Homo sapiens: one gene and its partners. The protein of the gene in region 3 purifies or fractionates together with the protein of the main gene of each other region. This does not show direct contact. Each region holds a gene or a part of one and is shown on either strand. Other genes may lie near its edges. The genes, in order: PRAG1, ASAP2, PEAK3, PEAK1 and ASAP1.

Region 1 (4,032 bases), on a different chromosome or scaffold from region 3:
TTGCGATCTCGGCTAACTGCAATCTCCACCTCCCAGGCTCAAGTGATCCTCCTGTCTCAGCCTCCTAGGAATCTAAGACTAGAGGTACATGCCACCATGCTTGGCTTATTTGGCGTTTTTTTGTTTTTGTTTTTGTTTTTTGGTGGAGATAGGATCTTGCTGTCTTGCCCAGGCTGGTCTTAAGTTCCTGGTCTCAAACTCCTAGGCTCAAGTGGTCCATCTGCCTCAGCCTCCCATAGTGCTGGGATTATAGGCATAAGCCACCATGCCTGGCCCCACACTTCAGAATATTAGCAGTAATTCCTTAATATTATCTAATACCCAGCCAGTACTCCTGTTTCCAATTTTGAAGCTTGGATTTTACCAGCTTTCTTCTAGGGTCACTAAAAACAGTTACAACCTAGAGGCTAGACCATTCTGCTCATTCCACAGGTAACCTTTACAAACTCAGAGGGCACATAGCCCGGGTCTGCTGGCATCTGCTGTCTTTAGACACATTTAGGAAGCTATGTGGCTAAGACATATCCTAGGAACTGCTTGCTACCTGTTTGACCTCTTTGCCTGTTCTAGTTTTCTTGACCAATATGGTGAGTAGGTCAGGAAGGCTGTGTGAGCATATATGAAAACTAAGGTCAATTCTAAATCAGGGGAGTCTTCATTGAGGAGAGGCATTTCCTTTGGTTGCAGTGAACTTGATGTCCCCTTCCGGGCTGCTCTGTTTTTTCCTAAGCTGCTTACACCCATTCTCCAGGCCATTCTCAATACCTTCAACCTTCACCAACCTGAGCCAGGGACTCTTTAAGCTCAGAATCACCTGGGAAAGAAGCCAGAGGCAGGCCCTGCTTTGAGGCTGCTTCTAAAAGTGGGGGTAAAGGAGGACTTTAGACCAGAAGGAGGAGGAAACGGTGACTTCAGGGATGGTAATGACCAGTCCACATCTCTGTCTCATAGCCCAACGAGTCCAACCACTCGCACAGGCTCAGGCTGAGGTCACTGCTGTAGGCGGGAGAAAGATGACCTCTGGCATAGTTGGAAGCAAAGCACAGAAAGAAGCGAGGAAGCCCAGGTCCAGTTCAGAAGCCACCCCTCACCCTGATCCAGCTCAGAAAACACCCCTCACTCTGATCCAGTTCAGAAGCCACCCCTCACCCTGATCCAGTTCAGAAACCACCCCTCACTCTGATCCGGTTCAGAAGCCACCCCTCACCCTGATCCAGTTCAGAAACTACCCCTCACTCTGATCTGGTTCAGAAACCACCCCTCACCCTGATCCGGTTCAGAAACCACCCCTCACCCTCCTGTTCTGCCCACACCCACCCACCCAATGTGTTTCTTTTTTCTTTATTATTATTATTATTAATTATCATTATTTTTGGTACAGGGTCTGGCATTGTCGCCCAGGCTGGAGTGTGGTGGTGTGATTTGGGTCACTGCAACCTCCGCCTCCTGGGCTCAAGACATCCTTCCACCTCAACCTCCCAAGTAGCTGGGACTGTAGGTACACACCACCACGCCCACCAAGTTTTTGTATTTTTTTGTAGAGATGGGATTTGGCCATGTTGCCCAGGCTCGTCTTGAACTCCTGGGCTCAAGCAATCTGCCCTCCTCGGCCCACCATAGTGCTGGGATTACAGGTATGAGCCACGGCATCTGGCTCCAGTGTGTTCAGTGTGTTTTAAAAACACTTAAGACTTCGATTTCTTCAGGCATGCACTGTGATTGGGTTATCAAAAAACCCACAAACTCAAAGCAAAAATTAAACAAAACCCCAAGCTCCATTTTCCAATCCAGTGGAACAACTTGTGTCACCCAGCAGCTGGTTGCAAGGGAGGAAGAAGGCACAGTGTTCTTTTTCAGAGTTATATTTTTCTTTTCCTACTTCACAGACTTAAGCCAAAAGCATTACAGTCCATGGGTAGGAAGGGCAGCTCAGTGTCTGGGAAGACAAATGGCTCAGCGGGTGCCCCAGCAATGATCACAGGGCCGTGGGGAGATGAGAAGGTGGGCGTGCACTGAGTCCCCGGCCCCAGCGCCCCTGCACTGCACTACAGAAGACATTCTACAGTATCGTTGCCCTTCCCTCTCACTTTTCCTCTCTCTCTTTTTTCTATGACAAGTTCTAATATAAGTCTTTTTGCGTTGGGCTTGTGTGTAGGTCATCTGGAGACGAGCCCCTGGCAAGCTCCCCCTCCCGAAGCAGGAGGATGCCCCCGTCGTCTACCTGGGCAGCTTCCGAGGTGTACAGAAGCCTGCTGGTCCCTCTACCTCCCCTGATGGCAATTCTCGCTGTCCCCCAGCTTACACCATGGTCGGCCTGCACAACCTTGAGCCCCGCGGCGAGAGGAACATTGCCTTCCACCCGGTGAGCTTCCCGGAGGAGAAGGCTGTGCACAAAGAAAAACCCTCATTTCCTTACCAAGACCGGCCCTCCACCCAGGAGAGCTTCCGCCAGAAACTGGCTGCCTTTGCTGGGACCACATCTGGCTGTCACCAGGGCCCTGGGCCCCTGCGGGAATCCCTGCCCTCGGAGGATGACAGTGATCAAAGGTGCTCGCCCTCCGGGGACAGCGAGGGTGGAGAGTACTGCTCCATCCTGGACTGCTGCCCTGGGAGCCCTGTTGCCAAGGCTGCCTCCCAGACTGCAGGTTCCCGGGGCAGGCATGGTGGCAGGGACTGCTCACCCACGTGCTGGGAGCAGGGGAAGTGTTCCGGGCCCGCAGAGCAGGAGAAGCGGGGCCCGAGCTTCCCCAAGGAGTGCTGTAGCCAGGGCCCCACTGCCCACCCATCCTGCCTGGGCCCCAAGAAACTGTCCCTCACCTCGGAGGCTGCCATTTCTTCCGACGGCCTCTCTTGTGGCAGCGGCAGCGGCAGCGGCAGCGGCGCCAGTAGCCCCTTCGTCCCCCACCTCGAGAGTGATTACTGCTCCCTCATGAAGGAACCTGCCCCAGAGAAGCAGCAGGACCCTGGCTGCCCAGGGGTGACCCCTAGCAGATGCCTTGGGCTGACGGGGGAGCCCCAGCCCCCGGCCCACCCCCGGGAGGCTACACAGCCTGAACCCATCTATGCTGAGAGCACCAAGAGGAAGAAGGCAGCTCCGGTGCCTTCCAAGTCACAGGCCAAGATAGAACATGCAGCTGCTGCCCAGGGCCAAGGCCAGGTATGCACAGGTAATGCCTGGGCCCAGAAAGCAGCATCTGGCTGGGGCCGGGACAGCCCAGACCCAACTCCCCAGGTGTCAGCCACCATCACAGTCATGGCGGCCCACCCGGAAGAGGACCATCGGACGATCTACCTGAGCAGCCCTGACTCTGCAGTGGGGGTGCAGTGGCCACGAGGGCCTGTGAGCCAGAACTCCGAGGTAGGTGAAGAGGAGACTTCGGCTGGGCAGGGGCTGAGCTCCAGGGAAAGCCATGCTCACAGTGCCAGCGAGAGCAAGCCCAAGGAGAGGCCCGCCATTCCCCCCAAGTTGTCCAAGAGTAGCCCTGTAGGGTCCCCGGTGTCACCGTCTGCTGGAGGGCCCCCAGTGTCACCGCTGGCTGACCTTAGTGATGGGAGCTCTGGCGGCAGCAGCATTGGGCCCCAGCCTCCATCCCAAGGTCCTGCTGACCCCGCTCCTTCCTGCCGGACCAACGGTGTCGCTATCAGTGACCCATCCAGGTGTCCCCAGCCTGCCGCCTCGTCAGCCTCGGAACAGAGGCGGCCCAGGTTCCAGGCAGGCACCTGGAGTCGTCAGTGCCGGATAGAGGAAGAAGAGGAGGTGGAGCAGGAATTGCTGAGTCACAGCTGGGGAAGAGAGACCAAAAATGGCCCCACGGACCATTCAAACTCCACGACCTGGCACCGTCTCCACCCCACAGATGGCTCCTCTGGGCAGAACAGCAAAGTTGGGACCGGGATGAGCAAATCCGCCTCTTTTGCCTTTGAGTTCCCCAAGGACAGAAGTGGGATTGAGACATTCTCACCTCCTCCTCCGCCTCCAAAGTCGCGGTGAGTACCATTGTCTGCCTGGGACTCTGTCTGCAGGGCAAAGGG
Region 2 (4,032 bases), on a different chromosome or scaffold from region 3:
GTAGTGAAAATGGTTTGTGCAGGGGTATGTGGGTTTGGGTTGAAAACTGGCCAGATACCCCAGAGAGTCATCACAGGAAACCTGGCTGCAGTATAAGCCGTGATTTGATGAACATCCTGAGAAGGTGAGGGACATGGGGTCAAGACCTGATTCTGGCTGATTGAGGAGCATCTGTCTTCACCCCTCTCAGATTCCTCCTCTACTTCCTCACCAGCCTCATGGGATGAGTATCACCAAGATGCTTTTGAACTCTCAAGATGCTTTTGAACTGCCTGGGTGGGCCAGGCAGTGGCTCATGCCTGTAATGCAAGCACTTTGGGAGGCCAAGGTGGGAGGATTGCTTGAGGTCAGGAGTTCGAGACCAGACTGGGCAACATAGCAAGACCTACAAAAAATTTAAAAATAGTGCAGTATGGTGACATGTGCCTTTGGTCCCAGCTACTCAGGGAGCTGAGATGGGAGGATCGCTTGAGTTCAGGAGGTTGAGGTTGCAGTGAGTTGTGTTCGTGCCATTGCACTCCAGCTTGGACAACACAGCAAGACTGTCTAAAAAAAAAAAAAGACATTTGGGCAGTTGGGGAAGTCAAGTGGAGGCACATGCATTGAGGCAGTGAGGGTGATATTTTCTGTGTGCATCTGCCAGGCACTCCATGGTCACCCATTCCTCCTCTTCCTCATCTGGTCAGTTCATCTTGGAATCTGCCCAGAGAACTCAGAAGAGCAATAGACTGGCTGGCTGGTTGCAGTTACTTCCTACAAGATGTTCCTTTACCATCCTTGCTCCTAAACAGGGGCTTCCCATTCTCATGAAGGTGGAATTGGGGCCAGGGGCAGTGGCTCACACCTATAGTCCAAGCTACTTGGGAGGCTGAGGTGGGGGGATCACTTGAGTCCAGGAGTTTGAGGCTGCAGTGAGCTGTGATTGTGCCACTGCACTGTAGCCTGGGTAATAGAGGGAGACCTTGTCTCTTTAAAAAAAGAAAAAGATGTAAATGAGCATGGGCTTTTCTAGGAGGATGGTTCTGTGGCAAGGCCGGCCCTTCTGGGAGCTCATCTAATCCATTGCCTGCAGACCGACCCCACTCATAGCAAATTCAAGTCCTGAGCCATTATCCGCGAACCCCATAGGCACCCTGGGAGGGATGGAAGGAACAGTAGAATTGTGAGGTGACCCAAGTGAGTCCCCTGAGTAGGATGGAGCCAGAGGGAGTCAATGACCTTCCAGGTCCACATGGCAGGTTAGCGGCCAGTAGAGCCAGAGCCCTGGCCACAAGCTGCCCTTCACTGGCCACCAGCACCTGAGTGCTCCGATCGCCCCCTCTGTCTCCTCCTGCTCTTCTCCCTCACGGCTGAAGCTCTGGAAGCCGTCCGCTTATTTGTAGCATCTTTAAAGAGAGTGTAGTGGAGGGGATTCTTGCTTGAAGTTTTTCCTCAGAGGTTTGCCTCCTGCTTGTGCAGTTTTTACACGTCAGAATGCAGAAATTGGCCAGGTGCGGTGGCCCACGCCTGTCATCTCAGTACTTTGGGAGGCTGAGGTGGGAAGATCGCTTGAGCCTGGGAGATTGAGGCTGCAGCGAGCTGTGCACTGCACGTTTGCACCACTCCACTCCAACCTGGGCAGCAGAGTGAGACTCCGTCTCAAAAAAAAAAAAAAAAGAAAAAGAAAAAGATGCCATGGTGTTGTAGAAAGTGGTCGGGCCAGAAGTCCAGGAACCAAGTTCTGCTGCTGGCTATGCTTGTTTTTTGCAGCTTAGCCTCTCTAGGCTTCAGCCCTCACCCAGTCACTTACCAAGAGTTGTTCTAAGAACCAACGTGCTTTCAGGAGTAAACACCACTACAGAGAGGTGGCGTGTCCACTCACTTTTAGGAGCACAGATGTTCGTTGTGTTTCCCTAAGAAGAGAATTGGTACTTGTCATCATTCTGCCATCTGCAAAAGCTGGATTCCCCTGCCCCTGCTTTTCTTTATTAAATATAATTTTATTTTTTGCTTTGGTTTTAGACTGCTTTTAGACAGAGAATATCCATATATCCCTCCCCTAGCTTTCCCTTCTGTTAACATCTTAATACAGTTATCCAGTAGTCCGTGGTACATGTTATCCAATCATATTTATGTAGTTATCAAAACCAGGAAACATTGGTTTGATGCTATTAACTAAAAATCTTACTCAGATTTTACCAGTTTTCCCCCAAATGTCCTTTTTTCTGTTCCAGAATTCTATCCAGAACCCCATGTTACATTTAGTTGTGATTTTATCCTGGTCTCTTGCAGTCTGTATCGGTTCTGTAGTCTCACTTGTTTTTCATGATGCCTTCTTAAAGAGTATTGACCTGTTTTTTGGTCAGACTCCCCTTAATTTGGATTTCTCTAGTGTTTTCTCATGAGTGGATTGAGGTTATATGTTTTTGGCAAGAGCAGCACAGAATGATGCTGCCACATCCCACACAGCCGCCTCCCTGCTGCACACACACACAGGTCCACAGCCTGGCAAAACACTTGTAAAACTGTGCTGACACCAGCAGTATGTAAGTGTAGGATTTTATATTCGACCATTATTTAACACACTCCTCTTGATTTAGCTACATTTCTAGTATTTGATTCTCAAAGCATATTATTCTTAGAATTTCTCATACTAATCTTTTTCTGAGAAAGCCAGAAAACTTCTAAGATATTCTTTTTAAAAAAGGTTTTTATTATTCAAAGGGCTTGAACAATTACTTTTTGGGGGCCAACTCTGTAGTGAGTTAAAATGAAGCTATTGAGAGGATAGTGATGGTTTTCATTGAATAGCTTCAGTTTTTAGAAGCGGCGTCTTTTAAAACTTGAATGAGGGAAAGGGCAGGTTTATTTTGCATTAGAATGCCACCGTTGGTGAAGGCAGACATTTGGAGGATATGAGGGAGTGCCTGATTTTATACAAATCAGTAATTTCGTAACAGAGAGCTAAGATTATTCCAGAGGCTAATTAGAAACTATTTTCTTTTGGAATTGTGTATGGATTGCTGTCTGGGCTCACAGTTGAAATTCCTCTTGCTATGCAGATGACAGAACTTACCACTTTCAAGCTGAAGATGAACAGGAATGTCAAATGTAAGTTACATGGTGGTGGGACTTTGGGCTGGACTCAGCCGTTGTTTGTGGAATTTAACACAGCGTTGCTCTTGTTTTTCTAGATGGATGTCTGTGCTGCAAAATAGCAAAGAAGAAGCTTTAAACAATGCATTTAAGGGGGATGACAATACTGGAGAAAATAACATCGTCCAAGAACTGACAAAGGAGATCATCTCAGAAGTGCAGAGGATGACGGGCAATGACGTCTGCTGTGACTGTGGGGCGCCAGGTGACCCAGGGACCCCACCCGACCCTGGGCTCTAGGACATTTCAATCCCATTCTGATTCACAGAATCCGTTCATTGATTTTCACTTTCATTTCAAACACGAAATTAAGTGCAGCTCAGCCTGAGTTCATCCCATTACACAAATGCTTAATGAACTGTGCAGACCGCGGCAGGGGAGAGGGGCGGGAAGATGTTTGCCTGCCGGGCCCCAGAGCAGGACTGAGTAAAGAGGGTTTGACAGAGCTGCAAAGTTTGAAATGCTTTTTGAGAAATGAAAACTGAAGGGTACAGTGAGAGTGAACTCAAGGTCATGTGGGCTGAGAGGCTGCATGTGGATGGGCTTCCTTGCTTGGAATCTGCTCTCTTCTCCCTTTATCCTACTTTGCAGAACTTCTGAAGTAGCTTTAAGCCGCTGTCTGGCTCTGTGACCCTGGGAGAGCCACTTGCTTTGTTAAACATCGATTTTCCTGTCTGTAAAGTGAAGGGACAGGACCCTTTCAGCTGACACATTCTGTGAAATAAGATTTTATTTTTACATTTTGATAAAGCATATTAGGGGCTTTATAGTAGGATGTGATTTAAGGAATTTGCTTATTCTAATTGAGACACAATGGTGGGGAGTGGGGGTCGGGGACTACACAGGTGCATTTTCTGAACATTTATAAAATGAAAAAGATGGAGGCTTGGCTAGAAT
Region 3 (3,054 bases):
CAAGCATGAGCCACCGGCGCCCAGCCTCATTACTTCCATGTTAGAGATGGGGAAACCGAGGCTGAGAGGTGGAGTCACGTGTCCCGTTCCCACTCCGCCTGTCCTCAACCCTCCCCCACTGTCTCTCCCTGCAGGTCAGATCCGTGCCCACCTGCTGCCCTCCAAGGCCTGCCGCCTCCGGACCCCTGGGTCCCTCTCCACCAACCCAGAGCCCCTGCCCCCACCCCTGCCCAAGAAGATCCTAACCCGGACCCAGTCACTGCCCACCCGCAGGACCCTCCATCCCAGCTCCATCCAAGTACAGCCGCCTCGGAGACCCTTTCTGGGGTCCCACAGTGTGGACAAGAGCCAGGCTGCAGTGGGACCAGCCTGTCTCCCTGCAGAGCTGACCTTTGGCCCGGCTGACGCCCCACTGGGCCTCTCCCTCCGCGATCTGCACAGCCCGGAGGCTGTGCACACTGCACTGGCTGCGCGGCAGCTGCAGGGCCTCCGTACCATCTATGCCCGGCTCCGTGCCCGGCTCATGGGGGGCCACCCCGGGCCCTGCCACCCCGGCCACAGCTTCCGCCTCCTAGACAGCTCACCCTGCGCAGAGAGCGGGGACGCCCTGTATTACCGCGTGGTGCGCGCGCACGAGGACGCCTGGCACATCCTGGTCGCCAAGGTGAGCCCCACAGCCCCACCCTCTCTGAGGTGTCCCCAGTGCCCCATCTTAGACATAACCCAGGGCTTGTTTCATTTGGCCTTTCTGTGAGTCAGTTCTCACACTGCTGTAAAGAAATACTGGAGCCGGGCGCGGTGGCTCACGCCTGTCATCCCAGCACTTTGGGAGGCCAAGGCGGGCGGATCAGCTGAGGTCAGGAGTTCAAGACCAGCCTGGCCAACATGGTGAAACCCAGCCTCTACTAAAAATACAAAAATTAGGTGTGGTGGCGGGCGCCTGTAAACCCAGCTACTTGGGAGACTGAGGCAGGAGAATTGCTTGAACCCGGGAGGCAGAGGTTGCAGTAAGCCAAGATTGGGCCATTGCACTCCAGCCTGGGCAACAGAGTGAGACTCCGTCTCAAAAAAAAAAAAAAGAAAAAGGCCGGGCACAGTGGCTCACACCTGTAATCCCAGCACTTTGGGAGGCCGAGGCGGGCAGATCACGAGGTCAGGAGATACAGACCATCCTGGCTAACACGGTGAAACCCTGTTTCTACTAAAAAGACAAAAAATTAGCCGGGCGTGGTGGTGGGCACCTGTAGTCCCAGCTATTTGGGAGGCTGAAGCAGGAGAATGGCATGAACCCAGGGGGCAGAGCTTGCGGTGAGCCGAGAACGCACCACTGCGCTCCAGCCTGGGCGACAGAGCGAGACTCCGTCTAAAAAAAAAAAAAAAGGCTGGGCAGCACAGTGGCTGACGCCTGTAATCTCAGCACTTTGGAAGGCCAAGGCGGGCAGATCATGAGGTCAGGAGTTCGAGACCAGCCTGGCCAACATAGTGAAACCCCCATCTCTACTAAAAATACAAAAATTAGCCGGGCGCGGTGGTGCGCACCTGAAGTCCCAGCTACTTGGAGGCTAAGGCAGGAGAATCACTTGAACCTGGGAGGCGGAGGTTGCAGTGAGCTGAGATTCGAAAATTGGGCTATTGCACTCCAGCCTGGGCGACAGAGTGAGACTCTGTCTCAAAAAAGAAAAACAAAAGAGAAGAAAAAAGAAAAGAAAAGAAAAAGGAATACTGGAGACTGGGTAATTTATAGAGAAAAGGGCCTTAATTGGCTCATGGTTCTGGTGGCTTCTGCTTCTGGGGAGGCCTCAGGAAGCTTCCAATCATAGTGGAAGGCGAGGCGGGAGCAGGCATCTCACACGGTGGGAGCAGGAGGAAGGGAGGGAGGAGGTGCTACTCACCTTTACACAGCCAGATCTCACGAGAACTCACTCGTTATCCCAACGACAGTGCCAAGGGAGATGGTGCTGAGCCATTCATGATAAACCACCCCCAAGATCCAAGTCGCCTCCCACCAGACCCCACCTCCAACACTGGGGAATGAGATTTGGTGGGGACACAGATCCAGACCATATTAGACTTGTTTATTTTGCAACTAACACGTGAATCAACGCAGTTAACCCAGGAAACCATGTTTCTAAAGTATGGGGCCATGGGTATGGCCTTGGAGCTCTTGTCAAAACCCCTCCCACACCTCTCTGGCCGGGGATCTGCTTTTGTGTTTTTTGTTTTGTTTTTTGTTTTTGAGACAGAGTCTCACTCTGTTGCCCAGGCTGGAGTGCAGTGGCGCGTTCTCGGCTCACTGCAACCTCCACCTCCCGGGCTCAAGCGATTCTCTCACCTCAGCCTCCGAAGTAGCTGGGATGACAGGCGCGCCACCACGCCCAGCTAGTTTTGCATTTTTTAGTAGAGACGAGCGTTCCCTGCGTTGGCCAGGCTGGTCTCGAACTCCTGACCTCAGCGATCCCCCTGCCTCCCAAAGTGCTGGGAAGGCGTGAGCCACCGCGCCCGGCCCAGGAATCTGCTTTCGAACTCATTGCCCAGGAACATCTTCTTCCCTGGCTTAACTTTCCTGAAAGTCCTTACTGGTGACTAACTTCCAAATTAACACTGACCTCCTGCTGCTGGAGGGATGCAGGCAGCCCCTAGCCGTAGTGGGGGCAGTTTGGGGGTGTGCGTGGGAGGCTTCGGGGCAGGTAGCACTGGGGCAGGCGGTGCTTGTGGGGGGCCCAGTGATCCAGGCCCCGACACCCCCTCTGCCTTGCAGGTGCCCAAGCCCGGGGCGGACGTGCCCCACCCGTGGGGCCTGGAGCTGCAGGCCTCCCTGTCTCCACACTTCAATCTGCAGGGGCTGTGTGGCCTGGTGCCTGAAGGCACACTGCCCGGGGCGCCCTGGAGAGGCGCAGTGGCGCTGGCAGCCGAGGTTCCAGAGCGCACGGTGGCGCAGTGGCTGGCGGAGGCCTGCACGCAGCCGCCGGAGGAGTTCGTGTGGGCTGTGGCCCTGCTGCTGCTGCAGCTGAGCGCGGCCCTGAAGTTCCTGGAGGCGTGGGGCGCGGCCCTAGT
Region 4 (4,032 bases), on a different chromosome or scaffold from region 3:
GGAGTTTACAGTTGAGGAGGAGAAGATAGGTGATAACCAATAATTATAGTATGACAGGGGCATGCACACATTCCTATGGATGGAAGCACAGAGGAGGGGTAGCTGACTCAGACTTCGGGGGATGGGTGGAGGGTGTCTAGAATGCATCTTAGAGTGTTACCTGAGCTAATCTTCAATAATAGGTAAGAGTTAACTAGGTCCAGAAAGAGGGAAAGTACATCTTATACCAGTGCTGTCCTATAAAATTTAATACAAGCCACAAATATGTTACATATACAATTTAAAATTTTCTAGTAACCAAATTTTAAAAAGTAAAAAGTGAAATTAATTTTAATAATATAAACTCAGTATATCCAAAATATCATTTCAACATGCATTCAGTATAAAAAGTAATATTGAAATATGACATTTCCATTTTCATACTGTCTTCAGAATCTGGTGCATAATTTTCTACTGTTTTCAGAATCTGGTGTGTAATTTACACTTATAGCACATCTCAATTTGGACAACTACATTCACATACTCAATAGCTGCAGGTGAGTGGACAGCAGCAGCACAGCTTTAGAACAGGGGTGGATGAAGTAATAAGCCAAATCAATGATTGTCTTGTGAACCAAGTTAATAACTTTAACTTAATTCCAAAAGTTGCGGGGATTTAGTGGGGAAAAAAAATTATGCTGTGGTAGAATCAGATTTGTATTTTAGACCTGTCATTTTGACAGTGAAGTGAATATTGAATTAGAGAGGGACAAAACTGGAAGCAAGGACCAGTTAGGAAGCTATTCCTGGTGAGAAATGATGAAGAGTGTAGAAGAGGGAGTGGCTCTATGAGAGATTTAGGAAGTATTATTAACGGGACAGGATAAATCTATTTAGATTATAGAATTGAGCAAGATTGAAGATTTTGGATGATTCCTACATTTCTGTTGTGATCCGCTGAGTAGATTGGGCAAGCAGCTGAAGAGAAGCCAACCATCTGTGCCAGACAGACCAAAGATGAAAAAAGGAAATAGAGATTTGTCATGGAAGCTGAGGGAGAATATTATTTCAAGGGCTAGGAGTGGTCAACACTGTATCCTGCCTCCAAAAGGAAAAGTAAGATAAAGACCTAATGAAGTCTCTGAGACTTGGTGATTAGGATGTCTTTTATAACTTCAGCTAGAGCACTTAGCTACATTGTAATGCATGGGGGTGGGTGTTGAAAAGTGAATGACAACTGTAAGTGTAGCTAATTGAGAGGGGTACAATGTTTTCAACAAAGGACTCTGAAGGAGTCTTTAAGCAGGGGGAGATACTTGGGATTTAGAGAATCTTGGACATTCTTAATGTGAGCCTGGAAAGAGCCACTGGAGAGGAGAAACTGAAGAAGAGTGTATATGTGTGTGTTTGGTGGGCGTGGGAGACTGGCTGGTGGATGGAGACAAGGATTTGAAGGTAATAAGGAATGGGATCCAGGGCGTAGGCAGAGAAGTTGGTCTTAAGTAGAAGGTAGTCTCACTTTTCCAGTGAGCAGAAAGGAAGGAGATGGATGGCAATGTAAATAAGTTTGTAACTGACAGGGCAGGAAGGAAGAGTTGATGACATGTCTTGTGTAATTTTTGATCATCTGCTAAGAGTGAAGGGAACGTGGTAGAATAGGAGTTTTTAAACAATGTATGTGAGGCCAAGTGCTGTGGCATGTGCCTGTAGTCCCATCTACTCAGTAGGCTGGGGCAGGAGGATCGCTTGAACCCAGAAGTTGAAGGCCAGCCTGGGCAACATAATGAGACCCTATCTCTTAAAAAACACACACACAAACAAAAAAGCCAGGTAAAATTAATCCACCCCTGTGAAAGGAATGGAAAAAAAGATAGTCTGTAGTTTATACATACTCTTTGTAAACGGCTTCCAAGGGAATGGCTAACAGTGGATGGGGTGGAGGTAAGGGAGAGAGAGGTAAACAGACACATGACTAGGAAACTGAAGAAGGATTGTTAGTTACATGACTAGGAAACTGAAGAAGGATTGTTAGTTAGCATTGAGGACCTGTTTATTTCAGATTGTAGACCTCACATTTGTAGCAGTACCAATTTTCGTGGTTGATTTTTCTCCAGCAGTGAGTGATCAGACTATCTGAAGAAACTATTTAATACTCTCAAGAACCTTATGAGTTATGTATTGTTACTGTTACTCTCCTTGTTTGTAAGATGAACAGCTTGGGTTTAAATTCTGCCCAGGCTGTTATCTGCTGCTTTGTAGATATCTGTTTGGTAGAGATATCTGAAGGACAGTTGGTTGAGGGAATTAATGATATTGAGTATTGTAGCTCTACTGAAGAACTATGGAGTCCTCCTGGATTATGAGCTGGAAGCCTGTAAGGAGGTGATCCAGTTGGGAGAAAATGAGGAGCATGAAATGCTAGAAGTCAGTGTGAAGCTGTAGAGCAAATGAAGAGCAAATAATACTAGCTTCTATTTGTGGAGTACCTCCTATGTGCTAGACACTTTAATACCTAATTCTGATCCTAACACTAACTCAACAATTTTGTTATTTACCTTATATTATTTCCTTTGTTCTCCTTCAGATGAAGAAACTGAGGATTAGAAAGGTTAAATAACATATTCAGACACACCCTGTCAAGTGATGGAACCAGGATTCAAAGCCCATTCTTTCTTGTCCAAACCATGTTCGTTTCAAGTCAGAGGATAAGATAGAAAATACAGTAATTGGGCCTGGCATAGTGGGTCATACCTGTAGTCCCAGCACTTTGGGAGGCCAAGGTGGGTTGAGGTCAGGACATTAAGATCAGCCTGGGCAAAATGGTGAAACCCCGTCGCTTACAAAAAAAAAAAAAAAATACAAAAAATTAGCTAGGCATGGTGGTGCACACCTGTAGTCCCACCTACTCAGGAGGCTGAGGTGGGAGGATCACTTGAGCCTGGGAGGTTCAATCTGCAGTGAACTGTGATTGTGCCACTGCACTCCAGCCTGGGTGACAGAGCAAGACCCTGTCTCAAAAAAAAAAAAAAAAAAAAGAAGGAAAGAAGGAAGGAAAGACAGAAGGAAAGGAAGGAAAGAGAAAGAAGGAAGGAAGGAAAGAAAGAAAAGAAAGAAAATGCAGGCTGGGTGTGGTGGCTTATTCCTGTAATCCCAGTACTATGGGAGGCTGAAGTGGGAAGATCGTCTGAGCCCAGGAGTTTAAGACCAGCCTAGGCGACATAGGGAGGCCTCATCTCTAAAAACTATAATAAATTAGCCGGGTGTGGTGGCATGTGCCTGTGGGCCTAGCTACTTAGGAGGCTGAGGTCAGAGGATCACTTGAGCCTGGATGGTAGAGGCTGTAGTGAGCCATGATTGCACCACTGCACCCCAGTCTGGGCAACAGAGTAAGACCCTGTCTCAAAGAAACAAACAGAAAAACTGCTGCTATATACTCTTCACCTGGGTTCCTCTAATGTTAACATCCTACATAACCATGGTGCATTTATCAAGCTAAGAAATTAGTATTGGTACGATGCTTCAACCAAGCTTCAAACTGCTTTAATATTTTACCAGTTTTTCTAGTATTCTTTTTCCATTCTGTTATCCAAACCTTGATATTGCATTGCTTTAGTTGTCTTCTTTGTCTCTCCCAATGTGTGGCAGTTTCTTGGTCTTTTCTTATCTTTTATAACCTTGACACAAGTATTTTGTAGAATGTTCTTCAGTTTAGGTTTGTCTGATGTTTTCTCATGATTAGATTGGGGTTATGGATTTTGGGGGAGAGTACTGCAAAGGTGAAGTGCCCCTATTATTTCATACAGGAGGTGCATGATATCAAATAATTTATCACTTGTGAGCACTCTGTTACGGTGGTTTCTGCTAGGTTTGTCCACTGTAAAGTTACTATTTTTCCTTTCCCATAGTCCGTGCACTAGAAACAGGTTGCTAAGTGTAGCCCACACTTAAAGGGATGGAAATTAAACTCCACTTCCTGGAGGGAGAAGTATAAAAGAATTTGTGGACATATATTAAAACCACCACAGTAATTGGTAAATATTTTGAGAGAGCTAC
Region 5 (4,603 bases), on a different chromosome or scaffold from region 3:
TTTGTAATCTGTTAATATTATTATAATCAAGCAGTGATCATGTTCTTTGCTAAGCAACTGATGACTACAGCAGAGATACCTGCGGGGAATGGGAAGCTGTCATTGGTGTCCCTAGCATCATTCCTAGGGGACATTGTGTGTGCCACCATTACGTGCCTCGCCAGATGTAAAGATGGTGCCACACACACATGCTAACTGTGATGTGAAATTCACAAAGACCTCACACATGCATGATGCCAACTAAGACCACACGCGGTGGGTGGGCAAGCCTTCAGGAGAGCTGGGCAGGCCTGGTTGACTCTGTTCCACTCTTAAAACCACCTTCCTCTCTATCGATTTGGCATTGGAAGCCAATATGCACGATTTTGTTTTTTCTATTGAAGGCCCATTACATGATTCTCTTTAGTGCAATCAATACTAATCTAATTGAGGTAATTAGAAAATTTTTACAGGTAACTGGCTTACAGGCCAATGCAGCAGACAATAAAATTGCCATTCGCCACCATCAGTCTCAAACTTTCACAGTATTCTTCCTCCACGGTAACCAGAAAACAAGTGATAGTACATAGCAGCCTTTTTTTTTTTTTTTTACTGGCTAGAACAACACTTTACTCACAAAGAGAAGAGACAGAACAAGATTAGCTTTGATTTGAGTATGGTACCCCGCAGTGGGTCTTGCCAGGCAGCTGACACAGCTTAATGGTCTGTATGCATCCTACCTGGGCTGTGGGCAAAGAAACCCCTTCCTTCCCAACTAGGAATAGGTAATAGTACTGGGATTGGCCAGGTGCCATAGCAGCCTTTTCATTTGCTTTTTTTTTTTTTTTTCTTTTTTAAATGTATCACACAAGCCTGGAGAGAAGGGATTTTCTTTAGCCCCACTTAACAGAGAAAAGGCTTAGCAAGGTTTGTGTGAGGTCACCCAGCTGTAAAGGCAGCCAGGCGCCCTGGTTCAGAGCAAGGACTCTAGAGCCCCACGCCTGTGGGAGAGCATGTCACCTCTCTGGGCCACTGTCCCTTCATCTGTAAAATGAAGATTGTAAACTGTATAAGAAATATCCACCTCAGGGGGTTGCTGTGTGGGTACAGCAAGATCCATGTAGAATGCTGAGCATATTGGAAGTTCTGTCGTTTGCTCTTTCCTTATGTAGTTTATGACCGTTAAGCTCTCTGTAGTTCACTAAAGGGTGGGAAGAAGGGTAAGCCTGGGATTCCACCGCCAGGTCTGTGGGCAGACTAGGCTGGGCTCTTACCCACTGGGTTTGTCGTGGGGCCACTGCCTGCTGCCTCCATCCTGACCACTCTCTTTTCTCCCTGCAGATTGGCCACATCGAAGGACAGCCTGAAAGGAAGGGGGTCTTTCCAGTGTCCTTTGTTCATATCCTGTCTGACTAGCAAAACGCAGAACCTTAAGATTGTCCACATCCTTCATGCAAGACTGCTGCCTTCATGTAACCCTGGGCACAGTGTGTATATAGCTGCTGTTACAGAGTAAGAAACTCATGGAAGGGCCACCTCAGGAGGGGGATATAATGTGTGTTGTAAATATCCTGTGGTTTTCTGCCTTCACCAGTATGAGGGTAGCCTCGGACCCGGCGCGCCTTACTGGTTTGCCAAAGCCATCCTTGGCATCTAGCACTTACATCTCTCTATGCTGTTCTACAAGCAAACAAACAAAAATAGGAGTATAGGAACTGCTGGCTTTGCAAATAGAAGTGGTCTCCAGCAACCGTTGAAAGGCATAGAATTGACTCTGTTCCTAACAATGCAGTATTCTCAATTGTGTTACTGAAAATGCAACATTAGCAAAGAGGTGGGTTCTGTTTTCCAGGTGAAACTTTTAGCTCCATGACAGACCAGCCTGTAGTTATCTGTGTACACAGTTTACAGCTACAAAAACCTACTTTGGTATTTATTACAGAAAAGTGCTCAGTTAAATGTAAGTGTTATTCCTTCAGCAAAATATTCACTGACCCAAAACTCTTTATGGCATTTTACAATGCACACAGCCTCATGCAAGTTTAGACAAGTGGATTTATACTGTCTTATGAGTGCCCGCCCCTGATATATTACCTCATTATGCAAAAATAACATATCTTTCATGACTATTTTGACAAAAGTTTAAAACACATATGAAGTTCAAATTTCAGGAACCAAGGACTGCCAGAAAATATTAGCCTCTACATTACGCATGCATTTAGAAGCTTACCTGAAATCTGCCTTTTATAAAGGAATAGTATGGATAAGTGGAATTGTACATTTTTTAAACTTGATTGCCATTAAAGCAGAAATTATAAGGTTGCAACAATATTTGTTTCTAATCACTGGCTTTCTCAAGAGTATGGATTGACATATTGTGTTATGAATGCACATCTCTCAGATGTGTTGAAGCATCCATTGCATCCATTTTTTATTATTTTCTTAGTTTTGTTCTTGGACAAATTTAAACTTTTAAAAGATTATTCAAGATGAATTTAAAAGTCAACCCTTCACACAGTTTCCCTACTGTATGTAGAATCCAGGTGCTGAAACCAAGTGTTTCTTTTCCCATGCTCTTTGTTAAACCCCAATTATAGATAATTTTTCCAGTCTTAAGCTCTGTCCACCTTCAAGTCAATTCATAACCAAGTTTTTGAACGCTGCTATGAATTGCACTGTGAAAAGCACTCTTCCCTCTCAGTTTTCTTTTCATCCCAGCCATGTTTATCAGATCCTTAAGAACATTGTATTTCAGTCTTTTACATCAGTCTGAATTTTGGAAAAGAATGCAATAGTTGTACTCCACAGTCAGTGGAACTGTTCCCTGAGTCCGAGGCTCATGTGTCATTCTGGCACTACATTTGCTTAAATTGCTATTTTGGCAACAGCACAGAAAACTAATATTTTTAAGCAGAGAATCTTGGCAATGAGTGAGAGATGTTAATTTCACAGAAGCACAACTCCCAACCCAACCCTTAGGAAAAGCCCTCTTCCATCGTTACAGTGCTCAGTGAATATTAATTTAGTTCTGCTTAAGTGGTTGCTATACAAACTTTGAATAGCCACCTAATAAATAAACCTTGCATGACAAACCTGCAAAATATTTTATCAGCTGTTATTGGAAAGTGATTTTAAGCAATTGCTTCCTCAGTGTCAGGGCACATGTGAATTTCCACACCAAACAGAGCATGAGGAACCAGTTGACATGCTGGGTTGTGACTGGCAGCTTTAGCAGCCTCGGTACTGAAGCCACACCAGTGTCCGGATGGAAGTCTGCATCTGAGGTTGCTCAGTGTCCCGGTCATTCATTTACACATTTTAACTTGCATTAAAGAGCTGTTCTTTTCTGTGGCCTAGACTCTTTTCACTGATCTCAAAATAAACTGGTTTTTTTCAAAAAAAAAAAAAAAACAAAAACAAAAAAAAAACACAAAAGCTGCATGTCTAAAATTACATGGAGTTAGTGTCTATTCTTTTTCCCCTTTTGCAGCAACTTACACAGCATTTTTAACACCTTTTTTTTCTAGTTTTTTTGTTCGGTTTTGTTTTCCATCAGGAATTTGAGTTCTCTCTAACCCAGCTTACTGTGGGACATAGGAAAACTCAGTAGAAATACCTTTGGTGATCTTGTTGAGTTTAAGTCTGATCTTGATCTTAAACTCAGTAAGCCACTATCTGCAATTTTGTACATTATATAGTATTTTGAAGATATGGAACCTTATGAAAAAAAAATAGCAAATTAGTTCTTTTTCCCCCAGAGGGGAAAGTTATGTTCTGCAAATAGTGTGTGTCTTATTTTACTGTTGAACAGCAATTGCTATTTATTTTTTTATTGCCTAGAACTTCAACATGTTGTATAGGAATCCTGTAGTGCCACTAGTTAAATGCCGAATTCTCATCTGGATGTTACCATCAAACATCAGTACACTTGTCATTTCACATGTGTTTAATGTGACAGTTTTTCAGTACTGTATGTGTTAATTTCTACTTTTTTTAATATTTAAAATTGCTTTTAAATAAACATATTCTCAGTTGATCCCAAACTTCTGAAATCAGGCCATTTTGTGAGTTGTTCACTACCCTGCTGACAGGAGAGAATCAAGGCTTCCTCTGGCTGTGCTTTCGGGTATATAGATGACACAGGTCACTCCAACCCTTGTCAGAGATCACTCTGGATACATAAAAATATGTGGCACTTGCCCCGGCTTACAAACTGTGGGCCTTCGGCCCCTTTCTGTCCTCCACCTTCCGCATTCCACCTCCACCACGTCCACTTGTGCGCCCGTTGATGTGAACAGGGCAAGAAGAGGGTGGAGGGGCACGAGGCTTACATGTTGTCGTGTGGACAGCACTTCTGTCACGTAGCTGTCACAACTAGTGCTGCCACGCAGTGGAGCAGACCTGGCCCAGGCACTCTGCCTGCATTAACCCCTGAATCCTTAGCAAGCCCAGGAGAAGCGTGAGCCCCTCAGCTTTACAGAGCTGACAAATGAGGCTCAGAGGCATTCATTCACACACAGGAGACATGTGGCTTGTAAATCACTAAGGTGGGAGTGCACACAGGTGGTTCTGGCTCCAAGGCCATCCTTGCAATTCCCACTGCCTGGAAGACACTCTCCTTTAT

Evidence for each region.
Region 1: the proteins of PEAK3 (region 3) and PRAG1 purify together in Homo sapiens (affinity purification with western blotting, with the first as the bait; one study listed by BioGRID). This does not show direct contact.
Region 2: the proteins of PEAK3 (region 3) and ASAP2 purify together in Homo sapiens (affinity purification with mass spectrometry, with the first as the bait; one study listed by BioGRID). This does not show direct contact.
Region 4: the proteins of PEAK3 (region 3) and PEAK1 purify together in Homo sapiens (affinity purification with western blotting; one study listed by BioGRID). This does not show direct contact.
Region 5: the proteins of PEAK3 (region 3) and ASAP1 purify together in Homo sapiens (affinity purification with western blotting; one study listed by BioGRID). This does not show direct contact.

What each region holds. Positions count from the first base shown.
Region 1 is NC_000008.11:8,376,202-8,380,233, reverse strand, and holds part of PRAG1 (inactive tyrosine-protein kinase PRAG1), read left to right. Parts: intron 1-2,155; coding exon 2,156-3,987; intron 3,988-4,032. UniProt on the Homo sapiens protein: Catalytically inactive protein kinase that acts as a scaffold protein. Functions as an effector of the small GTPase RND2, which stimulates RhoA activity and inhibits NGF-induced neurite outgrowth.
Region 2 is NC_000002.12:9,353,006-9,357,037, forward strand, and holds part of ASAP2 (arf-GAP with SH3 domain, ANK repeat and PH domain-containing protein 2), read left to right. Parts: intron 1-3,041; coding exon 3,042-3,090; intron 3,091-3,173; coding exon 3,174-3,340; intron 3,341-4,032. UniProt on the Homo sapiens protein: Activates the small GTPases ARF1, ARF5 and ARF6. Regulates the formation of post-Golgi vesicles and modulates constitutive secretion. Modulates phagocytosis mediated by Fc gamma receptor and ARF6. Modulates PXN recruitment to focal contacts and cell migration.
Region 3 is NC_000019.10:2,276,194-2,279,247, reverse strand, and holds part of PEAK3 (protein PEAK3), read left to right. Parts: intron 1-134; coding exon 135-664; intron 665-2,758; coding exon 2,759-3,054.
Region 4 is NC_000015.10:77,413,190-77,417,221, reverse strand, and holds part of PEAK1 (inactive tyrosine-protein kinase PEAK1), read left to right. Parts: intron 1-4,032. UniProt on the Homo sapiens protein: Probable catalytically inactive kinase. Scaffolding protein that regulates the cytoskeleton to control cell spreading and migration by modulating focal adhesion dynamics. Acts as a scaffold for mediating EGFR signaling.
Region 5 is NC_000008.11:130,051,523-130,056,125, reverse strand, and holds the end of ASAP1 (arf-GAP with SH3 domain, ANK repeat and PH domain-containing protein 1), read left to right. Parts: intron 1-1,320; coding exon 1,321-1,395; 3' UTR 1,396-4,022; downstream 4,023-4,603. UniProt on the Homo sapiens protein: Possesses phosphatidylinositol 4,5-bisphosphate-dependent GTPase-activating protein activity for ARF1 (ADP ribosylation factor 1) and ARF5 and a lesser activity towards ARF6.